2 separate regions of the Homo sapiens genome follow, and region 2 is linked to region 1. The links come from fine-mapping of genetic effects on gene expression. Tissue or cell type: whole blood. Region 1 holds a variant in brackets; the other region holds the start of a gene. All regions are shown on one strand. Distances are between the middles of the regions.

The links. PIP is the estimated chance that this variant, and not a neighbour inherited with it, causes the effect.
Region 2: it holds the start of SOS2, and the variant in region 1 is fine-mapped to the expression of SOS2 in whole blood (TOPMed, PIP above 0.99).

What each region holds. Positions count from the first base shown.
Region 1 is chr14:50,052,681-50,060,787 of GRCh38, forward strand. LINC01599 (long intergenic non-protein coding RNA 1599) reads right to left here. Exons shown (of 9, transcript NR_131171.1): 3 at 94-224. It also overlaps the pseudogene RPS15AP2. Among named protein-coding and RNA genes, the nearest start is that of LINC01599, 48 kb to the right of the region's middle. RefSeq lists enhancers at 3,272-3,331, 3,382-3,501. The variant G/A (reference allele first, on the strand shown) is at 3,062.
Region 2 is chr14:50,227,098-50,235,204 of GRCh38, forward strand. It overlaps SOS2 (SOS Ras/Rho guanine nucleotide exchange factor 2), which reads right to left and starts at 4,481. Exons shown (of 23, transcript NM_006939.4): 1 at 4,100-4,481. The coding sequence starts at 4,186. RefSeq lists a silencer at 4,073-5,152 and an enhancer at 5,303-5,392.

The DNA of each region.
Region 1 (8,107 bases):
AAGACAGTACCTGGGTATGACACATAGGCATGCATGCACGCACGTGCGTGCACACGCACACACAGACACACACACACACACGCTTATACTCACAGCCACTCCATCTCGGTGCTGTTCATCAGCCAAAACAAAAGACAGCAGAATCCCATCTTTCTTCCATTTTCAGTGCTGCCGCAATGGTCTGCATGAGTGGCCTGGCTGACACCCTCAGAGCACCAACAATGCTGAAAAGAGAAGCAGACACCAGGTTCTTTTTTTCTCTTTCTTTCTTTTTTTGAGACAGAGTCTTGCTCTGTCACCCAGGCTGAAGTGCAGTGGCGCGATCTCGGTTCACTGCAACCTCCACCTTCTGGGTTCAAGTGATTCTCCTGCCTCAGCCTCCCAAGTAGCTGGGACTACAGGCATGCACCACCAAGCCTGGCTAATTTTTGTATTTTTGGTAGCGACGGGGTTTCACCATGTTGGCCAGGCTGGTATTGAACTCCTGATCCCAAGTGATCCACCTACCTCAGCCTCCCAAATTTCTGGGATTACAGGCATGAGCCAGTGTGCCTGGCCAACACCAGGTTCTTATTAGGCTGTGCTCCAATATCATCATCTGGTTTCTCATTGTGATGATGAAGCTTGATAACTTTGGAAAATTTGAAATCGTCGTTGATCCTAGAACTGAGAAAATTGTTGTGACCCTCACAGGCAGGCTAAATAAATGTGCAGTGATCATCTCCAGATTTACTGTGCAACTCAAAGACCTAGAAAAATGGCAGATTAGTCTCCATCCCATCAGTTTGGTTTTATTGACCTGATGACTGAAGCTGGCATCATGGACCACGAGGAAGCACGAGAAAGGCACAGAGGAGAGAAAACCCTGGGATTCTTTTTCTGGGGATGAAATACATGATTACAAATTAAATGCTTCCCTCAATAAACAAAACCGAGAGAGAGAGAGAGAGAGAGAGAGAGAGAGAGAGAGAGAAGAGAGTGAGCAAAGCCCCAGGTCAGTTGTCTGCCGGCTGCTGCTCTGAGTCTCAGCCAGAGCTCTGGACGAGGAGGAACTCAATCCCCTTGGCATCCCCATGAGTGCCTAGAGTGGAGATTTCTCCTCTGCAGCAAACTGGGTATCTAGTACATGTGGACGTTCTCACTGAGGAGTGTTTCAGAGCCATTAGCAGACACAGAAGTATTCTGGCCATCCAGGGAGTTGGTCGCAGCTCGCTCTAGCAGAGGAGTGAGGGACTAGGGGCCCGGGAGTTAGCATGCTTGCCTAGGACATCTGTGGAATCTTTATTTTCCCTTTTTTCCTGCTGAATGAGGTGAGAGAGTTCTCTAAATGGGTATGGGGTCAAGGAACACTTATTATTTTTGGAATAGTTACAAAGATCTCTCAGGCATAAATGAGACTTGGAAACTGGACTACTCCTCCCCTCCCCACTTCCATTTGATGAATGACAGCTCTTCATGTATGACACACCTACCATGTGACATGCACTGTATTAGATGCTTGACTTCTGTTGTTTTAGTTGGCACGTTCTTTTCACACAGTTGAAAATGAGGCCCAGGTGCTCACGTGATTTTTAGAACCTAGGGTAGAGCCTGGAGCATCTGCCCTTCACCTCCATCTTCCTCACTCTGTCAGCCTTTCCCAAGGCATTCTCAGTAGAGGCCTAGTCTGGGGGGACCTTCTGTGGTCAGATGAATTGGTTGGGCACTGTCAGCACTTTATGTGCCCCTTGGTTTCAGGATGCTGTGAGCTGAACATCACAGGATACCCTAAGGCCTAAACTACAAAGTGACAAACCCAAAGGGCCATTCTGGGGTGGTTAATGCAGCAACTTAACAGCATCAAAGATCAAGACCAGTTTCTCTGAGATTTTCTTGGCTTTTCCCTCATGATTCCAACAGGACTGCAGTAGCGCCAAGCCCATGTCTTCACATGACAATGTCCTAAGGCAGGAAGGGGCAAGTACTCATCCTGTGTCATGTTTTAAGAGCCAAGAAATCCTTCCTAGAGGTTCCCAGGGCCGATCGTCTTTGCATTCGTTACATGCAGGACCACAGCACATGGCTATAACTAAAGCAGTTACTGAAGGAAAATGGCTCCGACCTGTGAACATTTCATCCTGGGACCAGGGAGGAGCCCATGAGACACACAGGTGCTATAAACCAACAAAACTGAGGGTCTCTCAGCAAAGGCGTGCGGCAAGGAATGTTGAGCAGGAAACCAACACGGTTTTCCATACCCTTCTTGAAGATTTGCATTGCACATTAATATGTTTAAGGCTCTATTGTAAAGAAAGGTATTTTACTTCTTTTTTTTTTTTTTTTTTTTTGAGACAGAGTCTCACTCTGTCACCCAGGCTGGAGTGCACTGCCGTGATCTCAGCTCACTGCAAGCTCCACCTCCCGGGTTCATGGCATTCTCCTGCCTCAGCCTCCCAAGTAGCTGGGACTACAGGCACCCGCCACCACGCCCGCTAATTTTTTGAATTCTTTAGTAGAGACAAGGTTTCACCGTGTTAACCAGGATGGTCTCGATCTCCTGGCCTTGTGATCCGCCCACCTCGGCCTCCCAAAGTGCTGGGATTACAGGTGTGAGCCACCACGCCCGGCTGGTATTTTACTTGTTTTAACCCAGTGCTTCCCAGACTTTTTTTTTTTTTTTTGAGACAAGAGTCTCGCTCTGGAGTGCAGGCTGGAGTGCAGTGGTGGGATCTCGGCTCACTGCAACCTCTGCGTCCCGGGTTCAAGCAATTCTCCCGCCTCAGCCTCCTGAGTAGCTGGGATTACAGGCGTGCACCATCATGCCCGGCTAATTTTTGTATTTTTAGTAGATTCAGGGTTTCACCATGTTGGCCAGGTTGGTCTTGAACTCCTGACCTCAAATGATCCACCCGCCTTGGCCTCCCAAAGTGCTGGGAATTCAGGCATGAGCCACTGCGCTCGGCCCAGACTTATTTTTTCTTGGAGTTCTTATTAACTCCCTGCAGACACGGTGAGCAAAACTGGGTCCGCCATGCTGTTTTCCTCAGTTAAACGACTGTCCTGAGAGCTCTTTGGCACAGCC[G/A]TGCAGCCAGATAGTGCCCTTTGCAAACACCAGAGAACAATGAGAGCTAGAAGAATGGCTGGGTTCAGTCATTTGAAGGAAAGAGTTTTCTTTGGCTCATTTAATGGGAAATAAAGGCAAGAGTTCTTTCCTGTGGGCTTCTTTTCCTTTTGGCCATTCTAAATTAATAGGTTTAAGACATTACTTTTAGTTTAATTTCTTTCCATTACACTTTCAGTACTCCAGTGCCACCAGGGAGGGCAGCAATGACTGCTTTTAATAGTGATTAAAGACGGACCCATGGTTAGGTCAAACCAGGCCTGCACCTCCTCCCATGCTGCACGTGCATCGGCATCAGCAAAGCCTGCAAGAATGCTCTTGAGTGATGACTTCCCCATGGCCACTTGTCTGCAGCAAGCAGCCTGCCAGAAGCCGGGACAGCTGGCAGCCCGTGCCCACCAAGCTCTCAGCCCCAAAACCTCTCCTTCTCTCTCCTCCTCAGTCCTCCTGTCTCCCCACCCATAGTGTGTTCTCTAGCAATACATCCATTAGTTGTTTCCCTGCTGCTAGACATCTAGATTACTTAAACTGCTTTTGCTGTTGGAAGCAATGCCTCCCTGAGCATGCGTGTGAGCATTTCTCAAAGGTAGATCCCAGAACGAGGAATCACTTGGTTCACCAGGCTTGCACATTTAAAAATGTGACAGATACAGGCTTTTAAACTGCTCCATCGCCTTGGTGCAGAATGGAACTCCTGAGAGGTGAGGTCAGCGAGAAGATGTGAGTGGCTCTGAGCTGACGTTAGCCTGTGTGTTCCTGTCCCAGCACTCACACCGTGCAGGGAGGGAGAAGTTACGAGTGGCTCTGAGCTGGCCAGTGGACCGCATGTTCCTATCCCGGCAGTCACACAGTGCAGTGAGAAGATGTGTGTGGCTCTGAACTGGCCGGTGGACCGCGTGTTCCCGTGTGGCACTCACACCAGGCAGTGAGAAGATGTGTGTGGCTCTGAGCTGACGGTAGCCTGCGTGTTCCCGTCCCGGCACTCACACCCGTGCAGTGTTGCTTCTCCTGCACTTGCTGATCCTATAATTGATATAGGGAAGGGCCTGGTAATGGATTGTCTCAGGGGGAAAAAATGATTCCCCTTCTATGTTTCTGCTCAGTCATTTCCTCTTCCGCCGGGGTGGGATGAGATAGGAATAGGAAGGGTTTGAGGAAAGAAGTCCTTTGTTTAAAAATAGCAGAGAAGTGCTGCTTGGTAATTTCCCTGATTTTTACTCACTGAAGAACCTGACTCCAGCTCTTCTTGAGTTTGGGATGGACAATGGAATGGCTTGGCGCCATCCTAGGCTCTGTCATGCGTTCATGCAACAAGCATTTGTTGAACACCTCAGGGGTATAGCATACTGATTGATCAGGGCATCACTGGCCTTCATGCAGATGTGGGGTCCTGGGAGCCCCCTACTATTTGAGTCAAGGCCTGTTTCATTGTTCTTGACTGAATGTTTGTGTTTCTCCCAAAATTCTTATGTTGAAGTCCTAATCCTCAGGGCAATGGTATTTGGAGATGGGGCTTTTAGGGAGGTAATGAGTTAGGTGAGGTCACAAGGGTGGGGGGCCTCGTTCTGATGGGACTACTGTCCTTTAGAAGAAGGAACACCAGAGAGCATGCTCACTCTCTCTCCCCCCTCCCCATGTGAGCACTTAGCAGGAAGGCAGCTGCCTGCAAACCAGGAAGAGAGACCTCACCAGGAACCAGATTAACTCGCACCCTGATCTTGGACCCGGAACTGTGAGAAAATACATTTCCGTTGTTGAAGCCACCTAGTCGATGGTATTTTATTATGGCAGCCCAAGAAGACTAAGACAGCTGGGTAGCTGGGAGGTGCCATGGGGAGCACACAGGGACTTGGGGAGTGACCAGCCACCCACTGGTACAGAAGTATTTCAGTATTTCAACAACAGATACAAAAATGCTAGCACCAGCACTGTTCATGGGGTTTACATGCTAGTGAGAAGAGACAGACAATATACAAAATAAGCAAAATAAATAGTGTGTCAAATGGTGTAACCTCTGTGGAAACAAACAAGGCAGAGAGAGAATTAGCAAGTGCCTTGGAGGAGGGAGGTTGCTACTTTATGTTGTACAAAGAAGGAAAGAGAAGGAGAAAGGCGTGCTCCCTATCCTTTAAGGCACACTATCATTTAAGGGCATTTTACAGAAGTTGTGCACACTTACTTATTCTTAAAGCCTCTTGCTCAGAACTTAATCATACAGCCACACCTTGCTGAGAGAGAAGATGGGAAACACAGACCAAATTCTGGAAAGCCATGTGCACAGCTGTGGGTCAGGGGAGGTGGGGGTCTCTGCTACTGAAGGTGCAGAGACTAGGAATTGGGAGGCCACCAGCCACAACAGGGGAATAACATGACTGGATTGTGTTGTAGAAAGATAATTTTTCAGGATCTGTTGGGAGACAGTTCTCCATGCGTCTCTAGCATTTGTGGGTGTCTTATGAGCAGGAGCACTCACTGCCTCTGTTCTGGAATCTCTTTCCAAAGGCATTTGAATAGCAAATAGCCTTGGAAGACAAGACTCTCCCTTTGGAGCAAAGTACAGGCATGCTTAGTGCCTAGTATAAGAAAGATAATGTCTTCTGCAGAAGAGGTCAGAGACTTATTGCCTATCATAAAAGATGCTGATTCTCTAAGCTCAGCATTCCTCCCCTCTAACACAACCCACTGTGTGTGCAGGTGCAACTGGGCCTTCTTTATGTTGACCTGTGGAAATTGGAGCCAAGGGAACCAGCATAAGAACATATACTTAATTTCCACTTTACAAGAACAGATATATATATATGTAATTATTCCCATGTATCAAGGGAAAATTGTACCTTTACAATGAAAAGATCTGGCAGACACCACCTTAACAAGGTGATCAAACTTAACACACCAATAACTGACATCATGTGTCTCTTAATGTGATACACTGAAAAGAATCCAGTGTTATCTCTGTTAAAAATATACAGCATGACTCTAATCATGAGGAAAAAGCAAATCCAAATTGAAGGATACAAAAAATGCTAATATGATGAAATATAAAAAAGGACAGGAAAACAATTCTAGGTTACGGGGGCTAAACAGATAAGACAACTAAATGCAATTTGTTATCCATGATTGGCTCTTGAATTGAAAAGGGAAAAAAAACTATCATAATATCTTATATCCATAAACAAATTCCACTTGGCAAAATTGAATGTGGATATATATTAATATTAGATATTATTATATCATTGTTAATATTTCTTTTCTTTTTTTTTCCTTTTTTTTTTAGACAGAGTTTCAATCTTATTGACCAGGCTGGAGTGCAGTGGCGTGATCTTGGCTCACTGCAACCTCTGCCTTCTGGTTTCAAGCGATTCTCCTGCCTCAGCCTCCCAAGTAGCTGGGATTAGAGGTGCCTGCCACCACGCCTGACTAATTTTTTGTATTTTTAGTACAGATGGGGTTTCATGTTGGCCAGGCTGGTCTTGAACTCCTGACCTCGTGATCCACCTGCCTTGGCCTCCCAAAGTGCTGGGATTATAGGCATGAGCCACAGCGCCCAGCCCTGTTAAATTTCTTGAATGTGATCACGGTATTGTGACTGTGGGGAAAATGTTCGCATTCTTAGGCAATACATGCAGAAATATGTAGGGGAGAAGTGTCATGGCATCAGCAACTTATTTTCAAATGGTTCAGAAAAAACACACATACATGAATATATAGGGAAAAAGAGAACATAACTGTCACTAAATGCTAATAACTGGTGAATCTAGGTGAAGGGTATGTAGGTATTCACTGAATTATTCTGTCAACTTCTTTGTAGTTGGATTTTTTTAAAACAAAAAGTTGGAGAACATGGAAAAGAATCCTGGTGGCCTGTGAAGGATGGATGGGGGCAGGGGGTGGACCTGGTTTGGGGACAGCTGTACTGGGAGCTCTGTCCCCTCAGGAAGTCTCTCTCCACCACTCATCATGGCTTCTCCCTGCAGCATGTCCCCTCGCTGCTGCAGGCAGGCTTTGCCAGGCTGCAGATGCATGGCCACAGGCCCCTCTGGATTCCCAGCCTTCCAGCAAGCATCTAGAGAGAAAAGAGCCTGCTGCAGCTAGAAAAACCCTGGGATCTAATGAGCTCAGCTTGGGTCATGTGCTCCTCCCAACTCCCACTCCTACCCCTGCCAACCACCCATTGGGTCAGACCCATGCACTCCAGGCACTGAGGGGAGAGCTAGGAGGGAGAATCAATCAGACTCGGGAGGGAGAGGGCAGAGCAGCAGAGGGTTAAGGATGAGCCAATGGTTTCTAACTAGGGGGACTAGGGAAGGCAGCCTTAACTGAAAGAGAATACAAGACAAGCCAGTTTGGGTGTTCTGTTTTGAACTCGATAAATTCAGAAGCTTTGCGAGGATCTAGGGGGAGAATCTCACAGATTGCTGGGAATACAAATCTGTAGCTCAAAAACGCATTGGCAGTGCCTGCTGCTTGATGAAGGCATGGGTGTGCGGGCTTCATCTGGAGAATGCGGAAGATTCCATCATGCCTAGCAGGCTAGCACGGAGCCCCCTCTCCTTGTAACCAGGCTCGTTGGCGACAGAGATCCTGGCAAATTATGAGGAAGTAGAAGCTGGGAGCCATTCAAAGTCATCACATCCACGTTTCTCTTCAGGGACTCAGCCAGGGCCGCTCCTGCTGCTTGTTCCAAGGCACACTGGGAGTTGTTGGGCAAATATTTGCACAACATTTAGGCCCTAAACCTGCAATGGCCTGAGCCCCTCCATGACAGAGCCTCCTACCCGGGTGCAGGCAGCTCTCTCAGCTTCTCCATCAAACCTAGCTACAGCAAGGGCTGTTGAGCCACTCCAAGCTCAAGTCTGGTTTTCCAGAAAAGATGTCCTGCCAAGAAATGTGTTACTGAAGAGGGAAAGGGAAATATAACCAAAGGCCAGGGTACTGGCACCTTTCTCCTGTCCTCTCCTGAAAACAGGGACCTCTGCTTCCTTTTGCCTTCTTGTTCTGTGTTCAGGA
Region 2 (8,107 bases), 170 kb after region 1:
GCTCTCTGTTTTTAAATGATCTAGGTGAGGTTCTATTTTAAAAGTTTAAGAACAAGCAAAAAGCTAAAGAACACCACATTTCTATTCCCAAAATTATTTTTCCATAAACCTATTTGTCTATCTCTGTGTTTCTTTTTCTTTCTTTCTTTCTTTTTTTTTTTTTTTGAGACAGAGTCTCGCTCTGTCGCCCAGGCTGGAGTGCAGTGGTGCGATCTCAGCCCACTCTAACCTCTGCCTCCCATGTTCAAGAGATTCTCTGCCTCAGCCTCCCGAGTAGCTGGGATCACAGGCATGCACCACCACACTTGGCTAATTTTGGTATTTTTTTTTTTTGAGACAGAGTCTTACTCCATCGCCCATGCTGGAGTGCAGTGGCGCGATCTCGGCTCAACTGCAAGCTCCACCTTCTGGGTTCATACCATTCTCCTGCCTCAGCCTCCCGAGTAGCTGGGACTACAGGCGTCCGCCACCACGCCCGGCTAATTTTTTGGGTTTTTTTCTGTATTTTTAGTAGAGATGGGGTTTCACCGTGTTAGCCAGCATGGTCTCGATCTCCTGACCTCAGGTAATCTGCCCGCCTTGGCCTCCCAAATGGGATTACAGGCATGAGCCACTGCGCCCAGCCCATCTCTGTGTTTCTATGTAATGCAATGAATACTTGAGATTGGTTTTTTAAAAATCCCTTGAATTTTCAATGTTGACAATGGTGACTTTGTCAAATACATATATATATGGATCTATATATGGGTATATATGGATATATACATGGATATAGACATAGATATCCAGTTTTCATAAAAACTAGCCAAAACTGGAAAATAAGCAAAAGAATACTGGCTGTGTTTCAGTACAGTGCTATGCTTGAATCTTTTATTAATTTCTACTGACTATTTTACACATCTATAAGATTAAGTTACAGCTTTTCAGCAGATAGAGATGCAAGTAATTTTTTTTTTTTTTTTGAGATGGAGTCTCGCTCTGTCGCCCAGGATGGAGTGCAGTGGTGTGATCTCGGCTCACTGCAACCTCTGCCTAGCAGGTTCAAGTGATTCTCCTGCCTCAGCCTCCTGAGCAGCTGGGATTACAGGCACACACCACCACACCCAGCTAATTTTTGGTATTTTTTAGTAGAGACGGGGTTTCACCATGCTGGCCAGGCTGGTCACGAACTCCTAAACTCAGTTGATCCACCAGCCTCAGCCTCCCAGAGTGCTGGATTACAGGTGTGAGCCACCACGCCCACTGAGATGCAAGTAATTTTTAGCCAGAGGAAAATATAACCCAAAGCCTACTCTTTTATGTTTCTTGTAGGGTATTAACTAATTCTGTATGTAACCCAACAGTCTTAATATTCCCTTATTAAATTGCCTATAAATACCTCCTCAAATTTTCATATTAAGTGACTTTAACATCTTACTAGTTCCCTCATCAATGGGCTGAATCAAAATAATTGATACATGTTCATTTACATTTGCATGGAAGTGATGACTTTACCTTTCTGAAAATTACGTTCTAACAGTTTTGGAGGTTCCACCAAGATGTCCAAGTGGACTAAACTGACAGAGCCAAGTAAGCTACATTGCTGCTTTCATAGACACACAAATACCCCTTACTGAACTCTGAGCTCAGAACCGCTCTCATTTACATAAACCAAAACCTCAAATTTTAGAATTTTTGGTTTAGATGGTATACATCTTTGGAGGGGCCTTTATTTTAACTTTGTACTCTTAGGATCCCGCATCATGTCAAGTATGTAAAATGTGTTCAATAATGGTTAAGTGAATTAATGAAGCTAGAATACACCACATGTACAATGGCAACACCAATTGAAGGAGAGAGATATTCCAATCAAATCCTAGTTGTCTTTGTAACGATCTGGTCAGCTAGAGGAAGGATGCCAAGTTCTAGATGCTCTGAATGTGAAGACAGAGACTCCCCCAAAATGGTAGAAATTCTCATTTTACAAAGACAAGGTGGCTGATGCATACCAGAATTTAAAACTTCCTGCAAAGAAAGAGTGAACCTTTAGCTCCCTAAGAGCTACAGCTCTTAGCAGGCACTACAGACCTACAAGTTGCAATGTCCTAAATACCATAAAAGTGGACATAATCTTAATTACTTTTACCAAAATTTTTCCAAAAATATAAAAAAATTTTCCATACGTATGTATTTCAATTCTATCACAACAGTAAGTTAATAGAAAATGTTTTCTGAATTCACCTCAAAAGACCAAATTTTCTTAGATGTATTTATTTCATAAAGAACATACTAGAACTGTGGAATATAACATAGTATCTACAAGGCACCTGAGTTCCAGGAAAACAAGCACAATATAAATGCAAAGTAATAGCACCAAAGCAATGGACTAGGATTGGATGCTAATCTTGGCTTCTCCAGCCTAACTTGAAAAAAAAAAAAAAAAATCTGGGTCTGGTGCGAGGTGGTTTATGCCTGTAATCCCAACAGTTTGGAAGGCAGAGGTGGGCGGACTGCTTGAGGCCAGAAGTTCAAGACCAGCCTGGGCAACATAGCATAACCCTGTCTCTATTTGAAGAAAAAGAAAACATAAATCTGTTTCTGGACATAAAGGATTATTAGAATCAAAGCTACCTATTGAACAAGTTATGCAACACACACCCAAATACTATTTGCTACCAGAAAGTTATAAATGGGTATATACCTGCGTCACATTGCCAACAATATAGGCCTACCTGATTACTGCACTCACACTTGTCTGTGGTCAAAGGGCTAATTACTATCTAGGCATTTCCCCCTTTGCTTTTAATTCAGGCCAGAGTTCATTTTCACCACTCAGCACACTTTTCATTTCTTTCCCTCTCCTTACAGAATTGGGCTGCACATGGAAGTAAGGTCAATTTAATACTTTAGCACTTGGTATACCAATGGAATAACTGTCTAGCTGCCACTAGTCATTTCTGCCAGGTTCTTTAAAAAGATACGACTTAGTGTTTGCCCTGAGGAAAGCAATACTTCCTTGTAAGAATTATGAAAATAAGGGAAAATCTGCAACTCTCATCGCATGAGGAAAATGTCTTTAACTTTAAAATACACTACTTCCTTTCATTTATAGAAATTTAATGTCTGAGGATATATTTTCCAAGTATAGTCTTTTAAATTAATCTTTATTTTTTCCTTATTTTAGAATGTATTCTTGGTTATTTTGCACAAAAGGCAGAAGAGACTAAGTCTGCATTAACGGCAAAGAAAGAAAGCCCCTGCTCAACAGGCATGACAGCTGATCACGCACCTATTCACAGTCTTTAAATGTCTTGATCTTACAGAAGGATTTATTATAAAAATGATCGTATGGTTACTACCTAAATTCACAGAGGAAGACCGCCACCATCTACAGGAAAGATGCACCCTAGCAATGCACCCAAACATGAAAGACTGATTTGCAGGAGTTGCCCCTTTCTTGTTCCTTAAAATGATTTCAAGTCCTAAATCGCAATTTGGTCGTGAAGACACTGAAGACACTGACCAAATTTTCTAAGGGTAATCTCTTGTAAACAGGTAAGACACCGTTTGCAGGAAGTGGGAAGGCGCTTTAAATTTACCTTGAGAACTGTAAAATGAATAAGAATATTATGACTCACTGACATTTCACACATGTGAAACATCCATATTACAAAAAACCATTGCCTCATAAGTGGATACCCTTGACAAGCAAACCGCCTAGGGGGAACACTCCCAAAGAACTTAATTAAAAGTAATTACCCGGCCTGAAAATGTGCTTTTGTTTTAGAAACTGTCTAAATACCAGCGGGACTTTCTCTTGCCCGATTCCAGCCTGAGGACAACAAATTGGTCAACGGCGGAAGTTGCCTGACGAAATGACTGCAACATGAAATCCAGTTTTATGATCATAACAAAACCTTCCTTCCGGGACCAGGCAAAAAAAAAAAACTTGAGAAACGTCCTTCAGAATGCAACAGGCAATTGTGAGCCCCCCATTGCCAGCCAACGAGAAACGGCTCGGCCCCGGGGACTCGAGCCCTGTGGGAGGGACGACCTGCTCCCCGTTAGAAGCTCGGGGGGCCACGGGCCACCCGCCGGCCGCCCCGCCCCTAGCACTGACCTTCCGCAGGGCCGAGACCAACAGTCCCCGCCATTTCGGACTGTTCTCCTCGCTGAAGAACTCGTAAGGCTGCGGCGCCTGCTGCATGGCCCCGGCGACAGCGCCTCCGCATCGGGGGCAGCCCGCGGGCCGGGCCGGTGGCCTGACAGGCAGGGCGCGGGCCGCCTCGCCTCGCCGGCGGCCGCCGCCTCCCGCCCGGGCCGAGGCTACGGCCGAGGCGGCTCGGAGGCGGCGCCGGCGGGCTGGCGGAGACCCCGGGGTCGGCTTCCTCCGCCGAGGCGGCCCTCGCCTCCCGCAGCGCCCGCAGAGGAAGCGCGGCGACCCGCAAGCCCGGGCGACCCCGGGCGGCGACCTCCTTTCCCGGCGGCGCTGGCCCGCTTCTGGGGCGGCTCCTCCTCCTTTGTCTGGGTTCGCGGCCCGTCAGGGGTACAGCTGGCCCAGCCCCGCCCCGACTCCCGCTACGGCCGCGGCGGGCGGTGAGCAGCGGCGGCGGCGGCGGCGGCTGCTCGTCTCCTCATCGCCTCCTCCCCGCCCTCCCAGCCGACAGCGCCGCCCGGCCCTGCCCACTCGAGTCACCTCCACAGAGCTCTGGGGACCGACCCGGAGTGCGCGTCGGGCGAGCGAGCCTCGCTATGGCGCGCACAGCGCTGGCCGCCGTTGCTGCCCCTTTAGCAGCAGCGCAGAGTGCCTTGGGGTCGCCGCTGAGCCCTGAGTCCCAGCAGCCGAGGCTCGGCCCGCCCCCTCGGCCCGGCGCTCATTATCCCGAATAGCCCAAGAGGCCTAACACGGAGCATGCGCGCCGCGGAGCAGGCACAGGCGCCAGCCCGGCGCGGGGGTGCGGGGCCTGGGGCCCCGGGGGAGTCCGCTTTTCCCGAGACTGTGCTGGGGGCCGCTCCAGACTCTTCAGTTTGACTGCTTTTTACCCATATGCTCCCTCCTCTCGACCTGCTTAAGACAATCCGGACTCGGTGCCACTCTTGTAGCGCTGGAGCCCCAGGACTACCGTCGTGGGAGGCTGCATAGGGACGTGGAGAGAAAGGGGCATTCGGGCTGGACAGGATATTTAACGTATTTGTGCTCTACGTGGCTTGTTTTCATGAGTACCGTATGTTTACACAAAGTAGGTACTATATATAATATATCGTTAGGAGATACAGTAACTATTTCTTAGGGTGATGGTGTGGGGACCGAGAGATGAGGCGTGGAAAGCCCTTAGCCTGGTGGTAGGGTCAGAAGGGGCAGATGACAGTGACGTTGATCAAGCTTGAATTGAAAGGTCCTTCACTTGCACGGGCCCCTGTGCGTTCACAAAATCATATCGTTTTTACAAAACTTTCAAGATATTTTCGAATTGTTTTCTTAATCGTGTCATCCAAATTGTGTAGGCTTCAGGTCCTACAAAACCTGGATCGGCGTCTAGGAAACACTCATTAGCAACCCAGAAAAGATCCTGACAAGCTTTTCAATCCAAAGAGGCATAGGCTCTGGTAACTCATTACCACAAATTTCATCCCACTAAAGAGGCTGAGCACATTACTTTTAACAGGTTGTAAAGAAGATATTTTACTCCCTGTCCCTAGCCACCAGCAGTGAGAAAGGGAAAAGACGAACAGGGTACAAAAAATAAGTCAGTACTACAATTCAGTTCCGGCATCAGTAGCTGAGCAATTATTCTCCCCAAAACATGCACCACTTTTTCATTTGGGCAAAATCAGAATGGCAGAGTTGGAAAATAAGATTATTTTTCTAATCCACTAAAGTATCCACTAAATCAAGAACATCCTCTAATAAATGGCCATATCCATTCACATGTACTTGGGATAAAAGGTGGGATGGTAAAATGCTTGTATTTCTCCCATTAATGTTTCAGTCTGTGAGAGCGAAGACTTTGGCTTATATAGAGGGTCCTTACTTTTCTCTCCTGTTCCCAGACTCCAGCTATAAACTACTGTGATGTCAAACTACTAGACCATGTATGTTCTCTTTACTCATAGGAGAGTAAACTTGTTAGAAATCTCATTCTTGGCTAGGAATATCAGAAGGCTTTTCTGGGCCAAGTCAGGCCTGAAGACATATTTTGTTTAGCTAAGGCTGTATTTAAATTTAATTGTTAACATTTTAAAATCAAGAGGCTTCATATAAAAATGTATATTTTCAGCTTCTCTTGACAAAGATCTGGCAACACTGGGACCTACTGCATTCGTGCAAGAGAGTAATCAGCAGGCACCGGGTAGTGGCTGCCCTCTTTATAAAAATATGCCATCCATTTCCAGTTGGCTATACTTCCCACCTGGCACTCTTCACCCTTTTATGTAACTTGCCTAGTCTCTACAGGCATCTGAGTTCTGATGTCTGGGCTGAGCAAACAGAAATATGATCCACGTGCATGTGGAGGATAGTCCAAGAATGACAGCAGTAAAAAGTTTCCCATTCAGGGCCGGGCGAGGTGGCTCACACCTGCAATTCCAGCACTTTGGGAGGCCGAGGCGGGTGGATCACCTGAGGTCGGGAGTTTGAGACCAGCCTGACCAACATGGAAAAACCCCCTCTCTACTAAAAATAACAAAACTAGCTGGGCAAGGTGGCGCATGCCTGTAATTCTTAGCTACACGGGAGGCTGAGTCAGGAGAATCGCTTGAACACGGAAGGTGGAGGTTGTGGTGAGCTAGATCACGCCATTGCACTCTAGCCTGGGCAACAAGAGCAAGACTCCGTCTCAAAAAAAAAAAAGTTTCTCATTCAGACAAATGGGCTATCTAGAAAAAATGTTGGATCCATACCCTATACAATACACTAGCAAAAACTCCAGATATGTCAAAGATTTAAATGTAAACAATAAAACCATACAATGATTCATTTATAACCTCAGAACGGAAAAAGACACTTTCACTATGACACAAGATCTAAAAGACCGATAAATTCAATTTTTATAAATGTATGAGCCGGGCATGGTGGTACATGCCTGTAATCCCAACAACTCCAGTGGCCGAGGTAGAAGCATAGCTTGAGGCCAGGAGTTGAAGACCAGCCTGGGCAACACAGTAAGACCCTGTCTCTTTAAAAAAAAAAAAAAAAAAAAAAAAAAAGGGCAAAAAAAATCACCAGATAAGCCAAAAGGAAAATGACAAACTGGAAAAAATAGCAGCAACTCATTTTTGTGGGTTTTTTGTTTGTTTGTTTGTTTGTTTGAGATGGGGTCTTACTCTAACTCAGGCTGGATTGCAGTGCAGCGGCATGATCTTGGGTCACTGCAACCTCCGCCTCCTGGGCTCAAGTGATCCTCCCACTTCAGCCTCCCGAGTAGCTGGAATCACAGGCACGTGTCACCATGCCCGGCTAATTTTTTGTATTTTTGGTAGAGACAGGGTCTCACCATGTTGCCCAAGCTGGTGCAATTCATTTTTGTAGTTAATTTCAGTAAAATATAAAAGAGCTCCTACAAATTAAAAGGCTAAAATTCAATAAGAAAAACAAAGGGGCCAGGCACAGTGGCTCAACACCTGTAATCCCAGCACTTTGGGAGGCCGAGGCAGGAGGATCCCTTGAGCCCAGGAATTGAAGACGAGCCTGGGCAACATAATGAGACCCCATCTCTATAAAAAAACTTTTTAAAAAATTTAAAACAAAAAAAGAAAAAAGAAGACATACAAATGGCAAATGGGATATGACAAGGTGCTCAACATCATTGATCATTAGAGAAATGCAGATCAAAACTACAATAAGATATCATCTCACCCCAGTTAAAATGGCCTATATCCAAAAGACAGATAATAACAAATGCTGTTGAGGATGTGGAGAAAAAGATAATTCTCTTTTGGGGGTTATACTGTTATCATTTTTCACCTATTAGAATAGCACAGATGAAAAAGTTTGATTACACACTATGATGGTGAAGATATGAGGAAACAAGCATTCTAATATATTGTAAGTGTATTAGGACTATAAATTGTTTCAACTTCTGTCAAGGGGAACTAGATAATATCAAAGTTTCTCTTTGACCTAGCAAAT